7 linked regions of the Homo sapiens genome follow. The protein of the gene in region 2 purifies or fractionates together with the protein of the main gene of each other region. This does not show direct contact. Each region holds a gene or a part of one and is shown on either strand. Other genes may lie near its edges. The genes, in order: YME1L1, KIAA0232, SLC30A9, OBI1, ZNF146, CNOT10 and NFXL1.

Region 1 (3,500 bases), on a different chromosome or scaffold from region 2:
TGTTCCTGGGGATGTGTCCTACTAGAGAAGCTGTTACACGAGTGGTGCCAGGGGAAGCTGCTAGGTCCTGCTGGCCATTGTGCACGCCAGGAGCCAGGGTTTGGTGAAACTGCACAATTGACAGGAGCCAGATGCTATAGAAACCACGGGTGTTACAGACAGGAACTTGCTAAATGAGCATACCACAACCAGGAATCAAAACCTCTCTTCCTACAGTGTATGTTCAGTGACTTCCTGACGAAGCTTAACATTGTTTCAATTGGCAAAGGAAAAATATTCGAAGGGTACAGATCCATGTTCATGGAGCCAGCAAAAAGGATGAAGAAGAGCTTGGACACAACCGATAACTGGCACATCCGTCCAGAACCCTTCTCCCTCTCAATCCCTGTACACTGCGGGTTTCTCCAAATGCCTATTGTCTATGATTTGTTTTGTCCATCGTTCTTAGTCACGGCTTAGTTCAGGTTCTTGCCATCTTTCACTTGTTCCATCAGCCTTCTCTCTCATCCAGTCTAGTTTCTTTGTTTGTTTGTTTTATCATTTTTAAATTTTTTGTAAAGACAGGGTCTTGCTTTCTTCACCAGGCTGATCTCGAACTCCTGGCCTGAAGCAGTCCTCCCACCTCAGCCTCTCAAAAGTGTTGGGATTACAGGCTCGAGCCACCATGCTAGGCCAGTCTATCTTCCTTAGTTCTCCATTTTCTTCTATAAGACAGAACTAATCATGTTACTTAGAGAATTAAATTCAAACATGGCTCTTCACAGTTTGGCCATAACCTATCTCTTTAATTTTTTCTTTCCTTGAATTTTTTGAGATATTCCAGACCCTTGGATGGCTTTTTGTTTGCCCCCGTCCCTAAGCCGCCTTGATCATTTTTAATAGCTTAAAAAGTACTTTTAAGTATTTTATTTCATCATGCCTTTAACTGTCTTTTACTATGTGCTGTCATGTTGTATGCTAGGATACGTAGATGAGTAAGGCATGATCTCTGCCTTTGATCCTTACTATTAGGAAATAAGGTGTATTTTATAGTTATGTTAGTATTGAGAAAATGAATTCTAAGAATATGAGTTATAGCTAATTTAAAAAGTACCGTATTCCCAGACATCAGTCCAGAGCTATATAATCCGTGTCCATGCCTCTTTTAAAAAAAACTTTATTTTTAGAGACAGGGTCTCCCCTTTGTAGCCCAGGCTGAAGTGCAGTGATGCTGTCATAGCTCACTGCAACCTCCAGCTCCTGGGCTCAAACATTTCTCCTGAGTAGCTGGTGCTGCGGGTGCATACCACCATGCCCAGCTAATTTTTAAATTTTTCATCAAGATGATGTCTTACCATGTTGCTCAGGCTGGTCTCAAACTCCTGGCCTCAAACGATCTTCCCACCTTAGCTGTTTTGGGTTTGAGTAACATGTAATTGTTACTTGCCTTTAAGTGCCTCTCTTTCAGCTCATGTGGACAAGAAAATAATCCCTATCCTGTTGTTTAAAAGTGGGTATACACACATTTTTGTGATTTTTAGACTTTTTTGCCTGATTTTCACACAGTTTTGACTTTAATTTTCTTCTTTATTAGAAGATATGGGTAACTTTAGAACCTCTGAGTTCAAGGAAGGATCTAAGCAATGAGGCCAGAGGAGTGAGATGTCCTATGGTAACCAAGCATACCATTTCTTTGTCAAGTGGGCTTTTGTTTATGGCTGCTTAGGGGCTTAAAAGCTCCATGGACTGGTGAGGATTATCATTTGAATGGAATTTCCCCAATTCAAGAACCTTACTATTATCCTCCAATCAGTTCTACACTGTTGGGGAAAATCCCCTGGACCTTATATAACATACTTTGTAACCCTGCAGTTAGTTACTCTTACACTCTTGTCATTATAAATGCTTGATCAATAGTTGATAGACTAGCTCTTGATCAGAGTACCCTTGTATGGAGAGAAGGAAAAAATGCCATACATTTCACTTGATTCTGTGAACCATAATGCTTAGGACAGTAGTGGTTTGGGTTTGATTTAAAAAAAAAAAAAGTTTTTCTCATTCATGCTGAAATGTCATCTCTTTATTTAAGGATACCATTAGGAATATAATTTTTTAACCTATGTCAAACCTCATATGACTGATCTCAGTAAAACGAACTGTGAAAATATTTGCATCAATTTATTTTTAAATATTAAAAAAAGGAAATATATTTGTTAGACTTTTAAAATCTGATTGTTTTAACTGATAATATGTACTCCTTAGGTTAAATATCTTGATAATATTAATGCATACCTGGTTGACCCAATCTTTTACAGCCTTCACTTAACTTAAGGGACCTTGGATTATCTGAACTAAAAATTGGACAGATTGATCAGCTGGTAGAAAATCTACTTCCTGGATTTTGTAAAGGCAAAAACATTTCTTCCCATTGGCATACATCCCATGTCTCTGCACAATCCTTCTTTGAAAATAAATATGGTATGTTAATGTGTTTTTTGTTCCAATTAAATATTTTAGCACTATTAATAATTATAGATACCATTTCTTAGCTTTCACAGTAGCGTTTATTGTGGGCTGGGTTCTTTCCTGAAGTGTTTTTTTTTTGTTTTTTTTTTTGCAATTTTTCATATTGAAATAGTACCAGATTTACAGGAAAGTTGCAAAGATAGTACAGAATTTTGCTTCCACTAATTTTGGCATCTTACATAATCATGTTACATTTGTTAAAACTAGGAAATTAACATTGGTACAATAATTTTTTTTTTGAGACGGAGTCTCCTTCTGTCAGCCAGGCTGGAGTGCAGTGGCACAATCTCCGCTCACTGCAAGCTCCGCCTCCCGGGTTCACACCATTCTCTTGCCTCGGCCTCCCAAGTAGCTGGGACTACAGGCGCCCGCCACCACGCCCGGCTAATTTTTTGTATTTTTAGTAGAGATGGGGTTTCACCGTGTTAGCCAGGATGATCTTGATCTCCTGACCTCGTGATCCACCCTCCTCAGCCTCCCAAAGTGCTGGGATTATAGGCGTGAGCCACCGTGCAGGCCTAACATTGGTACCTTATTTTTAACTAAACTACAGACTATTTGAATTTCAACAAAATTTGTTTTCACCAAATCACTAGTTCTCTGCAAGTGTCCTTTTTCTTTTCCAGGATCTGATCCAGCATACCACATTGCATTTAGCAGAATGGGGGGGCGTTGTTTGTTTTAATTTTAGGTGACACACATTTAATTCCAGGAAACATACTTAATCTTTGAGAATACATTGATTAAAAAAACAGTTGTTATCCCTTTTGTGGAATGTCTACATTTTTTTTTACTTGAATCTCATAACAGTATGGTAGTATAATAAGTGGGTTCATACTAGTCTGAAAAGGGATGTCAACTTTATGAGTTTTTCTTTGGATGGCACTTAAACAGGCCATAAAAATCCAGGAACAAAATAGCAGGTTTGACTAGTTTATAATGAAGGTTTGATTTGAAGCTGTCCTTTGCATAAACTTAATTCATTAATTCTTGAC
Region 2 (3,500 bases):
CCCTTCCCAACACAGAGGTCTGCAGTGTCCCCTCACCATCTGTACTGTGTCACTGCAAACTCCCTTCCCAACACACAGGTCTGTAGTGTCGCCTCACCATCTGTACTGTGTCACTGCAAACTCCCTTCCCAACACACCCGTCTGCAGTGCCCCCCTCACCATCGGTACTGTGTCACTGCAACTGGCACATGTTGGTTTGCTCGTTCATCTCCCCAGCGAGCCTGGCATGCGCCTTCCACTGCTGGAGTCCCTGTGCCCAGTAAAGTTCCTGGTGCATAGCAGGTACTCAAAGACTTTGAAAATGAAATAATTCTTTATCCTACCCTAACATGGCTAACATTTTGTCCAAGTGACTGAACATGTGGAATTAGGATTTTGGATCCTTCATGGATCAGAGAAGAGAGGCGGTTTTGCTCTGAAACAGTAAAACTCTGCATGTTTGTAACTCCACAGGAAAACACTGATGATTTATTATTTCTTCTTTGTATATAGATAGAGTATCTCACCCTTTTGGGGAAAAAAAAGTCTTTTTGATGTGTTGAAAATTGTTTTAATCTTAGGTGTCTTCTGTTTATGAAGCAAGATGTACAGGAGAGAGAGATTCTGGAGCAAAGTCAGATGGCTTCCGCGGAAAGATGTGCTCCAGCGCCAGCTCCACCTCGGAAGAGACAGGCTCAGAAGGCGGAGGCGAGTGGGTGGGCCCTAGTGAAGAGGAGCTCTTTTCTCGAACTCATCTCTAAACCTGCAAAATAGTACAAATTATTGTTTAAAAATGATATGTGATGGAAAATTACTCTTCAGTGAGACCTGTTAATCTAAAACAACAACTTAGGTTTCCTCTTCAATTAACTGATTCAGATTGGTAATAATTATCTTTCTCTTCTTGCTTATTTTAGAGTTGAGGACAGCTATCCTGTTAAAGATTTTTTTTCCCAGCTGTTAAATTCTTGGCTATTTGAAATAGACTAGATTGTGTTGTCAAATCAAGAATGGGTGTGCATGTGCTTGTCTTAGAAGTATCACTGCTTTTTGCATCTTAACTGCAGTTAATTTTCCTTCCGACTGCGGTTATATCACTATGACCTTACTAGCATTGCAGTGTCAACAACCACTTCTGCTCTTCAGAGACTTCAGCTTTGGAGCATTTAGGCTTTGTTCTCCAAGAACTGGGATATCCATTCTTACCCTACAGTGGCTTGATGCCTTTCTGAAGGCGAGAGGGAAGCCTGGGTGACTCAGCGGTGGTCTCCATTCAGCAAAATCTCATGTACATTTCCAGTAGGAACCGCAGAGGTGTGCTTTTCAAGACTCACCAAATACTGTGTTTTCTCTCTTAGGATTTCTTTTCCCCTAAAGTATCACGGAAGATACTATGGTTCGTGACTTTCTTGCTAACTGAAGAAGCCAAGGATTTGGGGTGTGGGGTCGTATGCGAGACACAGTGGGGTAAGGGTGCATACCCCACCCCTTACCTGCTCTCATACTGCAGTTACATTTACACCAAAACCCCATGCAGGGTTCTTTGTGGTGAGTGTTCCATACGTGCTAAGGACCTTAGTTACAGATTGTTACTTTCTGGTGACCTATGTTGAATTGAAACCCCCAAAACTTGAAATTGTGAACATTTGACATGCAGTAAAGGCCACCTCATCACCCAGAGAAATCTTTGGCTGCTGCAGCTAGCCGCTTCTTGGCTGTGATGTAGTATAGCTTCGATCTCATTTTGTGTTTGAGAGAATGTTCTGGGCAAGTTCTGTGTGTGGTGGGTTGGGGCGGGTAGAGTCATGAGTTTTCCACATCCCTGTGTGGTGGTTTTGCTGACTGTCGCTCCGTGGGACTGGCTCCCGTTTCTCCTTGGTGAGCCCGGGGAGCCGGCGCATCTTGTGAGTCGCGTCTGTGCATGGCGATCCGCTCCTCCGGCTCTCATGGCATTGTGCCACAGGCAGAGGCCAGGAGGAGCAGTATGTGCACAGCCGAAACATTTTACATTTTTTACATTGTTTTTCTTTTTTAACCAACTCATTGTTTAAAAAACAAAAACAAAAAAAACCTAATCTGTGAAATCAGCGTAGCATGCCTGGAGCATCAGGAATGGCAGAAAAGTCTGATGCGCTCTAGACAGCTTCACCACTCATTTGGGCAGGCAGTAAACACACATATAATTTATTAGCTGGGAGCTGAACTGGCTGTGAAATCTATGATTTGCTTTGAACATTTGGGTTTTGTTGCCTTTTTCTTAATTGATAACACAGAAAAGAAAGTACCATCAAAGACTGTGGAGTCATTGAGGGTCTGTGTGTCCTCACCGAGAGGGACCTGGTGTGCCCGCCGGGTCGATCTTCCCACGTGTTAGGGTTTATTTTTATACAACACATTTTTTGACACTTTAAGGTGGGTGGGTGTGTGTGTGTGTGTGTGTGTGCGCGCGTGCGCGCGCGCATGTGTAAGGTTTTATGTTGCTGTTATTTATTTACGAACTTCAGATACGTTTTTATGTATTTTTCATTCTTCTGGAGCTTCCTAAAAATTGATAAGCATCTGCACTGAAATATAATTTAACAGCAAAAGTAAAAAAGGATTGAAAGTTGTAAATTCCTCATATCACTACAGTGACGATTATTCTAGAAATCGTTGCTTGTGTAGCAAAGACCAAATAAATAGATTTCAGACACAACCTTGAGCACAGTTGATTTTGGACAGCTGCTGTTTATTAGGAAAGGGCTCCAGGTGGCAAAGGTGCACACTTCCTCAGACACAGGTGAGAAGATGCAGCACCTTCCACAGGTGAATGGGACGGATTCGAAGTGAGCAAAGGGATTCACAAATTATGTATTTATTTGTTTTCATAGTTAAGTAGCTGAAGCTCAGAGGCTTTCAGCAACAGAGATGAAAGTGTGGCTTTTTAGTTTTGTGAATGGATGATCACAAAGAAAAAGCATTTTTAAAAAGTTGGCAAACGCTGAAACGCACTGTGGTATGAAGCGCATTGCATTTCCATAGCACTGAAGTACCAGTTTCCATTCCTGGGCTGAGATTGTTTTTCCCGTGGTTGTATTGTTCTGATTTCACGTACACCAGAGTAACTGATTTTTTTTTGTTTGTTTTCTTGTGGAGTTAACACCAAATAAAAATTGTAAAAAACAGTTTGTTGTTTTTATTTCTCATAGCAAAGCTTCTTTTGTAAAGAACTCCAGCTTCCTTTTACTCATGAGCATCCGTGGAAGAGCAAGTGCCCAGGTTACATTTGTTCTAGATGGAGGTCATTTAGCTCTCATTGCAGACACTGCTGAAAACATTGTGCAGCTTTGCTAGGGAAGAAAGTGGTGTGGCCTGCTGAGAAATCAGCGGCTCCTCCCCATCTCACCCCCAGCACACGCAGGGACTACTACCTGAGTCTGCAAAACACATAGCATTTTTGTCCGTGGATGGTACACAAAGCTCAATCTTTTTGTTTTCTTCTGGGGAAAAAATTAAATCTTTATATGTTAATATGATTGATA
Region 3 (3,500 bases), about 35 Mb from region 2:
TCCACTGTATGACAGCCTAGGTTCTTTGGGTGTGGGCACCTTATTAGGCATGGTCTCAGCATTCCTCATCTACACTAACACAGAAGCACTCTTAGGGCGGTCCATCCAGCCAGAACAAGTACAACGGCTCACTGAACTCCTGGAGAATGACCCATCAGTAAGGTCAGCCTTATTCCAGTAATCCTGTTAAGGCTTACAAAAACATATTAAAAAACAGAAATGCCTGGTTTGTAAATACTTCCAGAGGAAGTTTTGGATTCCTCGTCTTCAGAACGTTTTAGTCTGTAACTTTTCAGAATTATAATCCTGGAAGTAAGAAAGAATACACTTAGGAAACTCCTTCTAAGTTTCCTTTTAAATTTTCTATACTTCTAATTTTTAGAGTAAGGAAGAGTCAAGTTGATATAATGAGAATGGAAGTTTGCAAAGTAGTTGTCTTCTTAGTGGAAATACTTAATATGGAACCTGTAGAGTTGCCTTATATTCGCATTGCAATTACAAATTGAATATATTAAATTTAAAAAGATTTTTGTTCATTGGGCAATGATTACCAAATTAAATATAATTTATATTTACTTTGAAAATAGACTTTGTTTTAGCTTATTTTAAGTATTTTTCTTATAATCTTTATCTTTTAAATTATGTAAAACTAAAGAACTGGAGACTTAGGAGATAATCAGCAGAAGAGATACAGAATTCTAATAGTGCTTTTCAGTGAAATTCTAGCAGCATTGTGGTTTTATAATGAAATAAAAGAACAAACCTTTAAAAACCCAGTTTTCTACTAACTCGCTCTATATTTTTTCAAACTTTAAAATAAGATTTTTTTGTGTATTGTACTTGAAATCTTTAAGTTAAATCTTTTTAAAATGACCCGTATATCTGAATTAGTAAAATATATTAATGATTACTAGATTTATATTCTATGCCCTATATGTTTAATCTTGAAAAGTAACTATCTTATTGGAACAAGATTAGAAAATGAGAGATGGGCACAGTGGCACATGCCTATAGTTCCAGCTACTTGGGAAGCTGAGGCAGGAGGATCACTTGAGGCCACGAGTTTGAGGCTAGTGTGCAATGATCATGTCTGTGAATAGCCACTCACTGTACTATATTCTGGGCAGCATAGCAAAACCCTGTCTCAAAAAAAAAAAAAAAAAGATTAGAAGTTGAGCATTATGAAAGTCAGTATTAGAGTTATTAACATAATGTGAGATAATCCAAATTAATATCCTTTCTTTGTGATGTTTTTGTCTGGTTTTGGTATTAAGATAATACTGGCTTCAGAGAATGAGTTGGGAAATGTTCTCTCCTATTTTTTTGGAAGAGTTTGTGAATAATTGGTGTTAGCTTCTTTAAATGGTAGAATTCAAGTATCTGGATATGAGCTTTGCTGTGTGGGTAGTTTTTTGATTAGTAATTATATCTCTTGTTATGGATCTGTTCAGATTGTCTGTTTCTTCTTGACTTAGTTTAAGTAGCTTGTATTCTAGGAATTTGTCTTTTACTTCTAATTTACCTAATTTGTTGGTATACAGCTATTTATAATATTCCTTTGTAATCCATTTTATTTCTTTAGTGTTGGTACAAATGTCTCATCTTTCATTTCTGTAATTTGAATCTCTCCTTTTCTTGGTCAGTGTAGCTAAAGGTTTGTTCATTTTCTTGATCTTTCTAAAGAACCAGCTTTTGGTTTAATTGACTTTCTCTGTTGTTTTTCTATTTTCTTTTTCATGACTTTCTCCTTTAATCTTTATTATTTTTTTCCTTCTGCGTGCTTTCAGTTTAGTTTGCTCTTTTTCCACTGTCTTAAGGTTAAGCTTTTAATTTGATGTTTCTTCTTTTTTAAAATAGACAATTACAGCTACAAATTTTCCTTTAAGTATTGCTTTCTCTGCATTCCACACATTTCCATATATTGTGCCATTTTCATTATCTAATAGTATTTTCTAATTTCTTTTTTTATTCTTTTCAGTTATTTAGGGGAGTATGTCACTTAATTTTTACGTATTTGTGAGTTGCACAGATTTCTTTCCATTATTGATTTATTATTTTGTTCTATTGTGGTCAAAGAATATGTTTTATATTAGTTCTGTCCTTTTAAATTTACCAAGGTTTGTTTTATGGCCTTACATATAGTCTTGGATAATATTCATGTGCACTTGAGAAGAATGTATATTCTGCTGTTGTTGTAGAGTGTTCTGTAGATGTTTGTTAGGTTTAATTGGTTTATAGTGACTTCAATTTCCCTAATTATCTTCTTGCTCTATTGTTCTATCCTTTTTTTTTTTTTTTTTTTAGATGGAGTTTTGTTCTTGTTGCCCAGGCTGGAGTGCAGTGGCACGATCTTGGCTCACTGGAACCTCCGCCTCCCAGATTCAAGTGATTCTCCTGCCTTACCCTCCCAAGTAGCTGGGATTACAGGTGCTCACCACCATGACCAGCTAATTTTTGTATTTTTAGTAGAGACGAGGTTTCACCACTGGCCATGTTGGCCAGGCTGGTCTCAAACTCCTGAGAGACGAGGTTTCATCACTGGCCATGTTGGCCAGGCTGGTCTCAAACTCCTGACCTCAGGTGATCCACCCGCCTCGGTCTCCCAAAGTGCTAGGTGTGAGCACCGTGCCCGGCCTCTGTATCCGTTACTGAAAGTATCGAAGTCTCTAGTTATTGTTGTTGTATTAGCTCTTCCTCCCTTCATTTCTTCTTGGTTTTGGCATCATATATTTTGGTGCTCTGTTGTTGCTACATACATGTTTATAATTTTGTATATATTGTTTAATAAGTAATGTCTAAAAAAGAGCTATAAACTGAAAGACTGGCAAATTCGAAATTTTGTGGAAGAGTGAATATCTGTGGATTCAATTATTGGAAAAAATACGTTAGTAATCCAGAAAATTCATACAATTTTTTTAAACAGTATATTAGTTACCTACTGCTGTGTGACAAATTGGCCCAAAACTTAGTGGTTTAAACAACATATTACCATCTTACAGTTTCTGTGAGTCAGGAATCAGGGCACAGCTTATCTGGGTCTTCGACTTCAGGGTTTCTCATAGACTGTAATCAAGGTGTTGACTGGGATTATAGTCATCTCCTGGGGAAGGGGCTGCTTCTAACCTTACTCACATGATTGTTCGCAAGATTTAGCTCCTTGCCAAATGGGCCTCTTCAACATGGCAGCTTGCTTAATCAAAGCGTGCAAATTGATAAGGCAATAGAGAGCGAGTGTGAACAAGACAAAAGTCACAGGTTAGTCACCTGGTCTTGGAAATGACATCTCATCACTTTGCCATATTTGGTAGTTATAGCCCACATTCAGTGAGAGGAGATCACACAAGGGCTTGCGTATAGGTGGCAGGGATTGATCATATGGGAGCCCTCCAAACAGTTTTCTGTCTGTAGTTAGTTATATGTAAGAACATAAGGAAAAAGTATATCTAAATATATTTATTAGTTGCTACTCACATACCAGCCAAATAATGAAATGTGTTTAT
Region 4 (3,500 bases), on a different chromosome or scaffold from region 2:
CCCTCACCAGACCACCATTTTCCAATTTCAATTTTTTATTTGCCTAAAATAACAAATTGAAAATAAGTAAGCAAAAGCTACAATAAAAGTGACTTGTAAAAATTACAACATGAGCCATCCGTATTTTTTAGAGTGATAATATCAGAAAACTGAATAGTAGAACATGGCCTTCAGAAACTTAAAATCACTACTGGGAATGACTTCAGAAACTGAATACTACTGAGCATTTTAAAACCATATTCCCCAAGCACTTTGCAAATCTCCTGTCCAGGGAAATAAACAAAACTATGTTAGTTAGCTTAGAGTCATTAAGGGACCATACTAATGGCAAATGTATGTGTGATTTTTTTTCTTTTTCACATAACTGAATATTCTAGGCAAGGTAACATTATACCACATGCAATATCGGCAAACTAATGCTGAAGAGTTAATTCTTGAGCTTTGAAATTGATTTCTGGGGTGCTGTTTAAAAATTTTTTTCTAGTGATAACAAATCTAATATGATTTAACCACTTGATTTTTTCTCTTCAAAAAGGCTTTTCCAACGTTCTGGCTCACAACTTCTAGGGCCCTCAAAATTGGATCTATCTATCTATCTATCTATGTATCTATTTATCTATATTTTTTGAAAGAGTCTTGCTCAGTTGCCCAGGCTGGAGTGTAGTGGTGTGATCTTGGCTCACTGCAACCTCCACCTCCAGGGTTCAGGTGATTCTCCTGTCTCAGCCTCCCGAAGAGCTGGGACTACAGGCATGTGCCACCATGCCCAGCTAATTTTTGTATTTTAAGTAGAGACAGGGTTTTGCCACAGTGGCCAGGCTGGTCTTGAACTTTTGGCCTCAAGTGATCCACCTGCCCCAGCCTCACAAAGTGTTAGGATTACAGGTATGAGCCACTTGCCAGGCCTGGATCAGTATTTTCTAATAAATTCTATGAATTGTTCTTCGATTAAAAAAAAAATCCTTCCAAGTATGATTTTCTTTCTTGAATTGTATAACACCTAAAAATTACCTAACAGGACACCAATTGCTAGAAAATCTAGAGGCTCAACACTGATTCTGGACACACTGAAAACTAGTGTGCTTAAATTTTAGAGTCTTCTTAGAAGCTACTTCCTTTAAATTCCCTACTCATTGCTTTTATGTATTACAAAGAAAAATAACACTCCCTAGACTAGAAACCAACCTCACTAACCTGGGAAAGGGAAATTCTTTGACCAGAACATTTACATTTAAAGTGAATGGGTCACAAGAATAACTGTCACCAAAAAAGGTTTAAACCAAGAAGCCTTTAAAACGTATTTCAAAAATTTGGCTATTACTTAGATGAATTTCAAGAACTTCTGACTGTATTACTTACTTACCCACATAAGCTGCAGCACAAGGATCACAGAAGAAATAAGGTAGAGAACATTATTTGGGGGCATAAAGTCTAACTCCCTGACTTAGACCCATCCAGGTTCCCTCTGGGCTCTAGGCACCTGCTTATCTTCATGAATGCACACCAACCAGGACTGTGGAGAGTTAATTCTTTAAGTGACTGATAAACACCATTACTGCTTCTCTGAAGATATAAGGAAAGCCATTTACTTCCTCATATATGCAGACAATGAATTAAGCTCTCAAGCACAGCACCATAAGGGGAGGCATTTAGTGAATGCTTTTTGATGATGATGACAAGCTTAAATTAGAAACTCATTTGATTTCCTTTCCCCTTCCCTGCCCCCCACCACTACTGTATGGCTATGTTTCAGTCTCTCAACAGTCCTTTGACTCTCTAATACTTCTCATTATAGGCTGGCTAGTTCCTCAACTATCAGAGATCTTTTCAAGTTCAAGAAGGTTAGGTGAATAAAAGTTATGAAGGGCAGAGTTCTGCCTACCTTTTGCACCTAAAAGAATAATGAATATTTCAGCTAACCCTTCTGCATTCTCAACACTGATTGGGTAATGACACTGGCCTCACGATGGTTCAAAACTCACCCATTCCAGGTAACATCAGAAAAAAAGTCCACTTCATTCATGCTAAGTAATCCTTTATTCTGAATCTTTTGTATTCCTGTATTTGATTATGTTGAGTATGTTATTACTCCACACTTTAGTTTTTATCTCTGCAGTCCATGTTTTTTCATTCACTTATGTCCCAGTTTATAACCTATTACCTACTAGCATCACTAGGCATAGAAAATGGGCTTATTCAATATCCCAAAGAATTCTGAAGTCCCAGGGTAGCTTTGAGTATTGAATTTAACATTTGACCATTAAAAGAGCAAAGGAAAATTAACTGTGCTTTATGTATTCTTCTTTAATATCCATCCCTCATATCACCCTTATAAGCCTCATGTTCTAAGAAATATTTACTGCCAAAACTTTAAACGAAGTTTAATAACTACAAAGGAGATCATATAGTGCTTACCAATGGCTCAAGAAGAACCAGGGAAATTAAAGGGAACAAGGCAAATTGATAAATACTGTAATTTCCGAGTTGGCATTCCTTTTAGTATCCTATTGTCTTCTAACAAATCAAGGTACTAACACTGGTCATCAATACCCAAAGAAACTATGCACTTCTCCCTCCTACACACTTATAACAAACTCAGTACAATTATGTCTGTAGTTTCTTTTTTATCTAAAAGCACTAGGCTCTCTCTTCTCCTCACCCTGGCCTTTTCTGAGCCCAAACAACATTTATTTTATATGTGGAAGATGGCTTACATCTAAGTTGCAAGTATTTCTCTGCTACTTAACCTGAGGACCTGAGAGCCAATATACAGGGGAACTCCTTTAAAATACCATATGGAGCTCATTAATAATTTTGAGAGATAAGATTTAGTAATTTCACACAGGAATAGTATTTTAAGGAAATGCAAATAGTTGAATATGTGATTGTAGAACTGAGTACTACAAAGCCATCTCCTTTCAGCACAAGAGGACTCCACTGTGGATAAACTTGAACTCAAGCTAAAGGCTGATCACTTGGGTCAAGATGGTGTTGTAGGAGTTGCCTGTAACATCTAGTGCTGATGGCATGGATCTTATCTCCCTTTCTAGGCCGAAAAATCCTAGAGGTTTGCCTTTTTCACCATGCTGTATCTCGTTCAAAGAAAAACTGAAAAAAATGAACCAGTTTCATAAATCACAACATTCTTTTGCATGAGGTACTCTGAAGCAGCTGCTTATTGCTGTCCTGGAATTAGTCACCAAGTCTTTATCTATCTACAATCTTAAAAATAAGAGAGTGGTAGCAAAAGAAAAGATAAGGTCAAAACTTTTCCTTTCATTGGTGCGAAAATGGTTATGTGTTTGTTTTTAGGTACACAGGGGAAGTCGCTGATATAAGCTTAAAAAACCTATGGCAAACCACAAAGAGGACGAAACAGAAACACATCCTTTAAATTGGTATTATTCTTCTAGAAGAAGATGCAATCTTATACAGAAGCACAACAGTCTCTAATTATAGTCACACATGGAACCACCTGATATTTCTTGGCAGTTAATGAT
Region 5 (3,500 bases), on a different chromosome or scaffold from region 2:
TACCAGGGACCTGTTTCATGGAAGACAATTTTTCCACGGACGGTTTGTGGGGGTAGAAGAATGGGGATGGGATGTTTTCAGGATGAAACTGTTCCACCTCAGATCATCAGGCGTTACATTCTCATAAGAAGCGCACAACCTGGATTCCTCACATGCACAGTTCCCAATAGGGTTCGCGCTCCTATGAGAACTAATGCCACCGCTGATCTGGCAGGAGGTGGAGCTCAGGTGGCAATGCTCGCTCACCCGCCACTCACCTCCTGCCATGCAGCTGGGGGGAGCTGGGGACCCCGATATAGTGTGTATGCCATGTTAAAATAATTAAAACAGATTTGGATTGTGCTGTCCTTTTAAATTTTAATAAAATAGATTAATTTCATATTACATAGAGAGCAAGTCCATCCATTCATCCGTGATAAAATTTTAGAAATATTTTCTATAAAATGTTTAGTATTTAATTGGAAATGAATCCAGTATAACATGACTTCCACAGATACAGCATTCCCATCCTCACTCCCATTCCTATTTTGAGAAATTTTAAAAATACAGAAAAGTACAAAAAATAAGACAAGATATCCCTATACCACAATCCAGAATCAATCAGTATCTTCTTATATTTACTTGAAGTCTTTTGAAAGAGAAGTGGATGTTTATATAAAAAGCTGAAGTCCCCTTTAACCAATACCCATCCCACCTCCCACACTCATTATTTTCCCTTCTCCACTCTTCACAGGTGACCACTATCAAGAGTTTGGTCTGTATCCTTCCAATCCGTTTCAAAAACATGTACATACATATATGCATCCATTACCAATAGATAGTACTGAGTTTTATGAGGAAACTTTTAATTCAAATTTACAAAAAAGTCATTGTACTATCTGTATCATTCTGCAACTTGATCCCCCCTCAACAATTCTGGGATCTTTCTGTTAATACATGTGGATTTCATTTGTTGCATTTTACAGATATATAGTATTACATAAGAATTTCCCATATTGTTCGTGATGGGCTTTCTCAGTTGTTTCTAATTTTTGGCTACTACAAATCAAGCCACAGTAAATATCCTAGTGCGTATTTCCTGAGCATTCATACTCATAAGTAGAACCGCTAAGTATTTCTCAAATTGTTCCAAGGAATGTTTCCCTATTCCCAAGGTCATATGCATTTTAGTACATAGCTTTTCCATATTTCTGTTTTTAATCTCTGGATTCACTTTTGTGTATAGTTCATGGTCTATTTTTCCCCCTTGGAGAACAAACTACCTCCACTTAAAAAAAATAGTTCCATTATTTCCTCATTTCCTGATGCCACTTGTATCATATTCCAAATTCTAATAAATGCATAGGTCTTTTTTTGAAATCTCTTCTGCTCTGCTCAATCAATACCACAGGAGTCTTAATATTAGTTGTAGATGACCATGTCATCTATTTTTGTCTGTTCCTTTCCAATATTTACAACTTAATTTTTCTTGTTACTGGCGAAGATCTCCAGATCTATGGTGGTAGCAATAAAAAACAGGCCTCCATTTTCTGTTCCCACTTTTAGTGAAAATGTGCCTAAACTTTCACCATTATCTCTGCTGCAGGTTTCTCTGTTGGACACAGGGTTTTAATCATATGCATGTCTTTCTCTTCAGTACAAATTTTCTGGTGTCCCTTAAGTTTTTAGTACTTGTTAAAGTTAACCTCATTCGTGGTGCTTTGCTTCAGAAGGATTATTTCTGGGGCATGATGAGGTGCAAATTTCTAATGAAAGCTTTCCCACTTTCAAGGCTTTCATGGGGTTTTTAGTGAGTATGAATTTTCTGGTGTCTAATGTGGTGTGACTTCTGGCTGAAAGCTTTCCCACATTCACTGCACTGATAAGGCTTCTTACCTGTGTGTATTCTCAAATGCAGAGCAAGGGTTGAGAACTGAGAGAAAGCTTTCCCACATTCATTACAACCATAGGGCTTCTCCCCTGTATGGCTTCTCACATGCACAGTGAGAGATGAGCTCTGAGAGAAGGCTTTTCCACAAACATTGCATTCGTAAGGTTTATCACCTGAATGAATCCTCACATGTACAATAAGTGATGTTCGCTGAGAGAAGGCTTTTCCACATTCGTTACATTCATAGGGTTTCTCTCCAGTGTGAATGTTCTGATGTTTTATGAGGTACTTCTTCTGGCCAAAGGCTGTTCCACATTCACTACATTTAAAAGGCTTCTCTCCAATATGGATTTTCTCATGCTCAGTAAGGTTGGATTTGCCACTGAAGGTTTTTCCACACTCCTTACATACAAAGGGCTTCTCTCCTGTGTGAGTTCTCTGGTGTCTGATGAGGTTTGACTTCTGAATGAAAGCTTTCCCGCAATCTTTACACTCAAAAGGTTTTTCTCCAGTGTGAATTTTCTGGTGCGTAAGGAGGTTTTCCTTCTGGCTAAATGATTTTCCACATTCATTACATTCGAAAAGCTTCTCGCCAGTATGGGTGTTCTGATGTTTAATGACATACTGCTTTTGGCTAAAGGCTTTTCCACACTCGTTACATTCAAAAGGTTTCTCTCTCGTGTGAAAATGCTCATGCTCAGTGAGGTTTGATTTGTGGCTGAAGACTTTTCCACATACCTTACAGGCAAAGGGGTTTTCCCCACTGTAAATTCTCTGCTGGCTGAGGTGTGACATCTGAATGGAAGCTTTCCCACATTCACAAGGTTTCTCTCCAGTAAAAATTTCTTGATGAGTGAGGATTTACTTTTGGCTGAAGATATTTCCACATCTCTTACATTTATAAGGCTTCTCTGTGTATGATCTCCCAAATGCAGAGTAAGGGATAAGGTTTGAGAGGAAATGTTATCATACTCAGTATATTCAATGCTTTCTCTCTAGAAAAATTTTCTAATATTCAATGAAGTATTGCTACCTTCACTAGTTTCTCTCCAGCATGAATTTTCTGCTTCTCAATGAGATTGTCATCTAGCTAAGGGCTTGTCAATACTCCTTAGAAGCACAGGGTTTCTCTTCAGCATGACTTGCACGTTCGACGAAATGCAACATATGAGTAACAGTTCCCCCACATTCAGTAAATTCATAGGGTTTCTCTCCAGTATGAACACTCTGGTAACAGATGAGGTACAAACGTTTTAAACCAAAGACATTTACACTTAAAGGGGGTTAATACCATAAGGAGTAAGCTGTGGTAGAGAAGCTCCCAACTAAGTCCCTTGATGATTCTTTCCTACACAACCTCCCTCATGATTTCAGTCCAGGTTGTGTTTCAAACTGAAAACTTCAAAAAGGTGTGGCCTTAAAACAAATACGATCTGAGAACAGAGGAAGTATTTTTTCTTATATTCAACGCTCTTTTTCTCAGTCTTTCCTGGAGATGGATCAACATGCCTCCCAAGTCCTGGTGCCTCTCAAGTCCTGGTGCCTCTCTATCTGTGCATCATCTTCTCAGGCTTCTTCTAAAATGGAGTACAAAGAACCATAGCACAAAGGAGTTAAATTCATAAAGTGC
Region 6 (3,500 bases), on a different chromosome or scaffold from region 2:
CTCAGTTGTATTTAACTCTATAGCCTGTAATTTTAGTTACTGCTTCATGCTGTTAGGGAGTCATGAGACCTTTCCTGTAATCATGAGTACCATGATACTCTATAGTATCACCCTAAAGTGTGACACAGGTAGAGAAGCAAGTTGTCCCTTCAGGCTCTCTGTAATCCTTTATAGGCATAAAGTAATTTTTAAACCCCATTAAAATTCAAAAATGAGAATAATAGCTACCATTTATTGAATGCATACTGGGTGCCAAATTCTGTATTAAGTGCCTTTTATGCCTTATCTCATATAATCCTCACATTCAACTCTTGAGGCAGTAGGTGCTTATTATCTCAGTTTTAAAACCAGAATTTAGGAAGTCTAATTTAAATTTACACAACTAGGAAGGGGAAGAACAGATTTAAACCAGGCCTTCTGACTCTTGAGCCTGTTCTCCTACCTGTCTCAGTCTTCATAAATTTGTATGTCCTCACGTTTCCTCATTACTCCAGTATTATTACTGATGATTTTATCTAGTGTTCCAGAATCAAAAGAAAGATGATGCTTACTGATAATCTAGTACATGCACCCTATGACCCCATAGACAGTTTCTTCCAAGACAAATTTGTTTGGTTTTTGAGAATAAGTTCAGCCTTTAAACTTTTTTTGAATAAGCAATTCCTGCAAACTTCCAGTTAGGCCAAAAAAACTTTGTGAAGTTCTTTCACTAGCTTTTATTGTTTATAAGGTTTGTTAGGGCCTTCCAACTCTTGAGTTTCCTAGAAGTGTTTGTACTTGTGGTTACTGACTTCTTTAAATCATACTTCTGTTCGCAGTCACATCGGGCACAGTGACACACCTTTTCAACCTATTCCATTTTAATTAGCAAACGTCTAATTTCACTTAATGAGTAGTTTTTCTTTTGGCTGGAGCAGTTACTAGACTATTTTGGTGAGTCATAGAATATGTGGCAAAGTTATTTGTGTGATAATTATTCAACCATTGCTGAATCCAAAACGCCATAGTTTATCTAAAAGCTTTTCTGGCTAAACTCTTCTTAACTCAGTCTCTCTCCATTACATAACTACAGAAAGAGTTGCCTTTGGAAATTGAGTTTTCACTGTTTGAAGATACTGTTTTTAATCTCTTTAAGATAGTGACTTGATAAGTGAAGATTATAAAAAGTTCCCAAACTCATTGAGATGCACATGTTGGTCAGCTAGGACCACTTGCTAACATTTGAACCATGTCAAGCTTAACCACGTGGGTGGTTGACGTCTGCTGAAGTCCAGTTACAAAATTTACAATTCATTGTGTGTAGTGAACCTTCAGGTTCCTTGCCATTAGTCAAACCAAGGCTGTTAAATCCATGTACTGTATATCAGAGTTCTATGGAAGTGTTGGTCTTAGAGTTAATTACTTAATATTGAACAATAATTTATTGCAATCTTCATAATGGCAAAGGTTAGTTTTAATACAAGTAGACTTCCAGTTTCATGTGTTACATGGAATTGTGCAATGGTTGTAAAGCTTGATTAAAATTTAAAAGCCCATTGCTACAGCTTACATAAGGGGGTATACAGTTTGAGAATGCAAAGTGTCATGCTTTTTTTTTTTTCTTTTGTGTCAGTTACAGATGTTAGCCTTTAGTGAAGCCCATAAAAGCCTTTTCTAACCATCATGTGTGCAATAATATATTTTTATTATTGAGTACTTTAAAAAAATCTATTCTTTTTTACGGGAACGAAACCTGAAAATATACTTTCTAGCCCTATGGCCTTGGGCAAGATAATTAAGTTTTCTGTGCTGGTTTCCTTATGTATAAAGTGGAAATGAAATTATCTATGTCCTCGGCCAGGTGCGGTGGCTCATGCCTGTAATCCAAGCACTTTGGGAGGCCGAGGTGGGCAGATCGCCTGAGGTCAGGAGTTCAAGACCAGCCTGGCCAACATGGTGAAACCCCATCTCTACTAAAAATACAAAATTAGCCAGGTGTTGTGGTGCATGCCTGTAGTCCGAGCTACTCAGGAGGCTAAGGCAGGAGAATCACTTGAACCCTGGAGGTGGAGGTTACACTGAGCTGAGTTCGTGCCACTGCACTCCAGCCTGGGTGACTCCATCTCAAAAAAAAAAAAATTATCTATGACCTTGAGGTATGGTGAGGATTAACCTGTAAAAGTTTTAACATAGCAAGTCTGGCACATGGTAAATAGTTAACTATTTTTGTTTTGTTTGATACAGAGTCTCGCTGTGTTGTTCAGGCTAGAGTGCAGTGATGTGATCTTGGCTCACTGCAGCCTCTGCCTTTTGGATTTAAGCAAGTTTCCTCCCTCAGCCTCCCGAGTAGCTGGGACTACAGGCACGTGCGACCACACCCAGCTAAATTTTTTTTTTGTATTTTGTATTTTTAGTAGAGACGGGGTTCACCATGTTGGCTAAGCTGGTCTCAAACTCCTGACCTCAAGTGATCTGCCTGTCTCGGCCTCCCAAAGTGCTGGGATTACAGGCATGAGCTGCCACGCCCGGCCAGCTATTATTAATGTTTAAATTTTACCTTAGTTTTTACAAAATGAAATCAAACTATGAATACTACGTGACATTTTTATGGGAAAGGTCATTTTGAGTTTGTTGCACGCCTGGTGTAGCCTCTTGTAGGTTGTGAGACTAGGAGATGGGAATCCTACTCAGAAGTGGTGTTACCAATTGAAACAGGGAAGATAGCTTCACAGTGACAAGGAAGATAATTGTCTAGCCATGTGCTGGGTACTTAATAAAGTCTCATGAAAACATTTTACCTAAAATTTTATTATGTGTGGCACAGAAGAATGAAAATAATTTTTAGTATGTGAGAGTAATTAAAATCTAAAGATACTGTTGAAAGTATGGAAAAATTCAGAATAAGAATGTTGGCCTATGTTCCTTTTTATTCATATGAATTCTTTCACTTTTGCTTTTTATTTCCTTAATGTTAAAATATAACCTCTGTTGATTGCTTTATAGGTCCACTCAGCTGTTGAAGAAATGGATGGATTAGATGATGTTGAAAACAGCATGTTGTACTATAATCAAGCAGTCATTCTTTATCATCTGCGGCAGTATACAGAAGCCATATCAGTTGGTGAAAAACTTTATCAGTTCATAGAGCCTTTTGGTATGTTATCTGTCAAGTCAAAAATTTCCCTATCTTCCCTATACTTGCAGAATTCTCTGGTACTTTTACCTAGATAACCTAAATCCGAGAAGTCCATGCCAGTATTCAAAGAAAAGCCGTATCAGCTTTGCTTAATGGTTAGAAAAGATAAAAATGTAATCCAGGTTTTCTTTGAGTGTCCCTTCCCAAATTTTGAAGATAACTGTTAAAAATGCTGTTGGAAAGTGCTGAAAACACTTAGTGATGTTTGTGGGGTTTTTGCTGTTTCAACACTATTTTAGTGTACCTGATCCTTTCTTACTTTAGTACATTAAGGAAGTAGCATTTTGGAATGTTAGGGGACAGTGAGGTATTTCATTTTTGCCCT
Region 7 (3,500 bases), about 41 Mb from region 2:
ACTTTGCCTCCCAACTTGACTGTGTGACCAATACACAAAAATATACATGCTATTTCAACTGGGAGGAATGTTGTGGAAATGAAAGCTTTTAGAATTAAAAAACAAAAACAATCCTCTCTTTAAAAGACCAATACACCAGAAATACCAATGTTTAATTTGGCACCTCAGTTGTAGACAACAGCCCCTTTTCTAACTTTATGTTGCTTCTCAGCATTCTGTGCTTTTTCCCCTATACTCCATAACCTCTGCTGGAAGTATAAAAAATTCCAGGATTCCGTATTACTGTAGGTTCAGCTCCTTAGAGCTCAGTCCCAGTCATTCACTGGCCCATCCAGGAAACTACTTCCTCTCATTTCCAAGGCTTCCTTTAAATATTCCCCAAGTTTGCCTTATCTAAAACCTGGCTTTCTTCTGTCTTCAGGGAGCTTACAATCCAGTATGGGAATCATCGGGAAAAGTAACAAATGATGTTCCTTGGATTTGTTTTTGTAATTGCATGCACTCGCTATGGAAAGCTAAGAAGGGCATCAAACTCCAACTGGGGGTAAAGACTCAAAAAAAGATATCTATAGTAGGTTTATATGCAAGTATGACAAACATGTTTGAAAAGAATGAAGGTTAAGACAGACACACTAGTTGATAGGCTAGGCCTGAAATAATAATGAACTGAACTAAGAAAAAAGGGAGATTGACTTCAGATACCCTTTAAGCTATGTCAAAAGTTTTTTGTTTTTTTTTTTTAATTGAAATTCTAATACTTACATAGGAATAGGAACTTGACATGGAGGACACGGTAATGCAGTCTGAATAAATGCTGGCTCAGAAGGCTGTTCCCAAGGGCCTGTAGGCTGGTGCTACAAATAAAATACATAAGAATTTTAAGTCAGAGGGATTAAATCATATGGCCATTTTAAGAATCTAAGAAAATAGTTCCATGTATCCTCTGCTCAAGCAGGTTGAAATTTTTTCAAATAATCAATAAATTGTGCTTACTGAAATATTTCATTTTATCTGTATTAAATGAAATTGTTCCTCTCCACAGACATTTGATATTAATAACTGAGACAGAATCCAGTTTATAAATGGTAGAACAAAGGCAGTGTAGCCTCCTTTACTTCCAATAAGGAAATGAGAAAAACAATTGGAAACTCCAACATCTAGCAATTGAATATAATCTCCATCATTTTACTCACTGTTGTTCCTCAGCACCTAAAAAAAAGCTTGATATTTAGTAAGGGCTCAATAAATGTTCATGAGGCTGGGCTGGACGTGGTGCCTCACACCTGTAATCCCAGCACTTTGGGAGGCGGAGGCGGGCAGATCACTTGAGGTCAGGAGTTCGAGACCAGCCTGATCAACAAGCTGAAACCCCATCTCTACTAAAACTACAAAAATTAGCTGGGCATGGTAGCAGGCACCTATAATCCCAGCTACTCAGGAGGCTAAGGCACGAGAGTCACTGAACCCGGGAGGTGGAGGTTGCAGTGACCCAGATCACACCACTGCACTCCAGCCTGGGCAACAGAGTGAGACTCCGTCTCAAAAAAAAAAAAAATTAAATAACTAAAAATAAATAAATATTAAATAAAATATTAAAAAGTGAATAAATCTTTAAAATAAGATTATAGGAGATATCTATAACCCTAAACCACAATATATGAAGGAGGACTGCCAAATTCACCTGTATCATGATCATAATGTAACTATCACACTGTATTTGCAAACAATGGTTTCACTCCTTTCCTACACTGTGAGTTGCTTAAAACAAAATCAAGTCTTGATTACCTTGTACCCTGCTCCAAGCACAGTGCTTCCCAATAAGTGCTTAATCATTGCTCATTGAAAAACTAAGTAAAAGCAAGAAAGTACAACCCACAGCAATGCACTATTTCTCTAATAGTATTATTCCCTTACCCTGCCAGTCTGCTTTATTAATGCTTGATCATGACACGGAGCAGGACACAAGTGACCACATTTCTCCAAAACTTTTTGGCAAGGTTGATGACATGGTGGACAAGAACCAAAGTGACAGCGATGTTTTTCTTGACTTGTATGATGACAAGTTGGTGGTCGACTAAATCATAAAGTACAATTTTCAAAAATTACTTTTAGTCATTGAATAATTACATCTAAAGGACAATTATCTATTTACATATCTTCTGATTCCATATAGAATGAGTATACTGTGAATATTAATATTTTAAAACACTAAAGCAAAATTAAATTATTAAAAGCCAATATGAATTTAAATTTGTACAACATCAGATGGAAGCTTGTGCAAAGCTTCAAACTCACCTGCATTGCTCCTTGCACTTGGGTGGTCTTGTGGTACGTTCTCGGCCACAGGGCACTGTCACCTTTGTATTGCCACAATTACACTTCACATCTACGGTTTCTGGGCAGGGATAGCAACTGCCTGAAAAAAAAGTCTGACAATTAAAAAGTTTCCTTAACTACCCAAATGCCTATTAATGGTAAAATACATAAATTTAGTATATTCACACAATGGGATACTCTACAACAAGAATGAAGAAACTACAACAACATGAATGAATCTTACCACAAAACATTGAGCCAGACACAAGGAGTACATAGTGCATGATTCCATTTATATAAAGTAAACAAGAAAAAATGTACTGTTCAAAATCAGAGTGATAGCTATGAAGGATGCAAGGAAGGTGTTGAAAATTTTGGTCATGTTCTGTTTAATGATGTAAGTTTTGGTTACCTGGCTATGTTCAGTTTGTAAAAATTCAACAAGCTGTATACTTTTTATTTGTAATACTTTTCTCTTTTTTTTTTTGTAACAGGGTCTCAACCTGTTGCTCAAGCTGAGTGCTGTTGCATGATCACAGCTCAGTGCAGCCTCAACTTTCTGGGCTCAAGCAATCCTCCCACGTCAGCCTTCCAAGTAGCTGGGACTACAGACACACACCACCATGCCCAGCTAATTTTTGATTATTTATAGAGATGGAGGGGTCTCACTATGTCATCCAGGCTGGTCTCAAACTCCTGGACTCAAGCAATCTTCCCACCTCAGCTTCCCAAATGCTGGGTGTACAGGCGTGAGCCACTGCACCCAGCCTCTGATTTATAACACTTTTTTCTCTGTACACTGGTACCTCATAAAGTTTTAGACATTTCTCTAAAATGTGCTAAAACTTCTGTTCTAAATAACAAATTTAACACATTACTCATTCAAAACTAAAACAAGCAAAAATGGATTTAAGTCTTTGGAAAATTTAACATTAACAATAATATCGTTGGCCTACTTTCATACATCTATCCAAGTACACAATTTTTAGATGAATTCCCAATAACTTCTTTCTCATGACCTGATATTGGTTAGTAGCAAGCACAGTCAATTTTCCATTAATTGTGCTTTGTGAAAGACTAAGTACTAAGCCACCATTTTAGGATATAATCCCAAATATTTCTCTTCTAAACATAAAAAAAAATGTTATTTTGGTTTCAGCTTTTTACGCTCTTTTGTTATGGGT

What was found.
Region 1: the proteins of KIAA0232 (region 2) and YME1L1 purify together in Homo sapiens (affinity purification with mass spectrometry, with the first as the bait; one large-scale study listed by BioGRID). This does not show direct contact.
Region 3: the proteins of KIAA0232 (region 2) and SLC30A9 purify together in Homo sapiens (affinity purification with mass spectrometry, with the first as the bait; one large-scale study listed by BioGRID). This does not show direct contact.
Region 4: the proteins of KIAA0232 (region 2) and OBI1 purify together in Homo sapiens (affinity purification with mass spectrometry, with the first as the bait; one large-scale study listed by BioGRID). This does not show direct contact.
Region 5: the proteins of KIAA0232 (region 2) and ZNF146 purify together in Homo sapiens (affinity purification with mass spectrometry, with the first as the bait; one large-scale study listed by BioGRID). This does not show direct contact.
Region 6: the proteins of KIAA0232 (region 2) and CNOT10 purify together in Homo sapiens (affinity purification with mass spectrometry, with the first as the bait; one large-scale study listed by BioGRID). This does not show direct contact.
Region 7: the proteins of KIAA0232 (region 2) and NFXL1 purify together in Homo sapiens (affinity purification with mass spectrometry, with the first as the bait; one large-scale study listed by BioGRID). This does not show direct contact.

What each region holds. Positions count from the first base shown.
Region 1 is NC_000010.11:27,144,385-27,147,884, reverse strand, and holds part of YME1L1 (ATP-dependent zinc metalloprotease YME1L1), read left to right. Parts: intron 1-216; coding exon of another isoform or gene 217-387; intron 388-2,294; coding exon 2,295-2,457; intron 2,458-3,500. UniProt on the Homo sapiens protein: ATP-dependent metalloprotease that catalyzes the degradation of folded and unfolded proteins with a suitable degron sequence in the mitochondrial intermembrane region.
Region 2 is NC_000004.12:6,880,227-6,883,726, forward strand, and holds part of KIAA0232 (uncharacterized protein KIAA0232), read left to right. Parts: intron 1-560; coding exon 561-740; 3' UTR 741-3,500.
Region 3 is NC_000004.12:42,070,530-42,074,029, forward strand, and holds part of SLC30A9 (proton-coupled zinc antiporter SLC30A9, mitochondrial), read left to right. Parts: coding exon 1-162; intron 163-3,500. UniProt on the Homo sapiens protein: Mitochondrial proton-coupled zinc ion antiporter mediating the export of zinc from the mitochondria and involved in zinc homeostasis, zinc mobilization as well as mitochondrial morphology and health.
Region 4 is NC_000013.11:78,635,156-78,638,655, forward strand, and holds part of OBI1 (ORC ubiquitin ligase 1), read right to left. Parts: intron 44-3,500; coding exon 1-43. UniProt on the Homo sapiens protein: E3 ubiquitin ligase essential for DNA replication origin activation during S phase.
Region 5 is NC_000019.10:36,235,606-36,239,105, reverse strand, and holds the end of ZNF146 (zinc finger protein OZF), read right to left. Parts: exon of another isoform or gene 3,448-3,500; 5' UTR 2,666-3,447; coding exon 1,787-2,665; 3' UTR 338-1,786; downstream 1-337.
Region 6 is NC_000003.12:32,705,688-32,709,187, forward strand, and holds part of CNOT10 (CCR4-NOT transcription complex subunit 10), read left to right. Parts: intron 1-2,982; coding exon 2,983-3,133; intron 3,134-3,500. UniProt on the Homo sapiens protein: Component of the CCR4-NOT complex which is one of the major cellular mRNA deadenylases and is linked to various cellular processes including bulk mRNA degradation, miRNA-mediated repression, translational repression during translational initiation and general transcription regulation.
Region 7 is NC_000004.12:47,883,584-47,887,083, forward strand, and holds part of NFXL1 (NF-X1-type zinc finger protein NFXL1), read right to left. Parts: intron 2,417-3,500; coding exon 2,296-2,416; intron 2,075-2,295; coding exon 1,915-2,074; intron 855-1,914; coding exon 763-854; intron 1-762.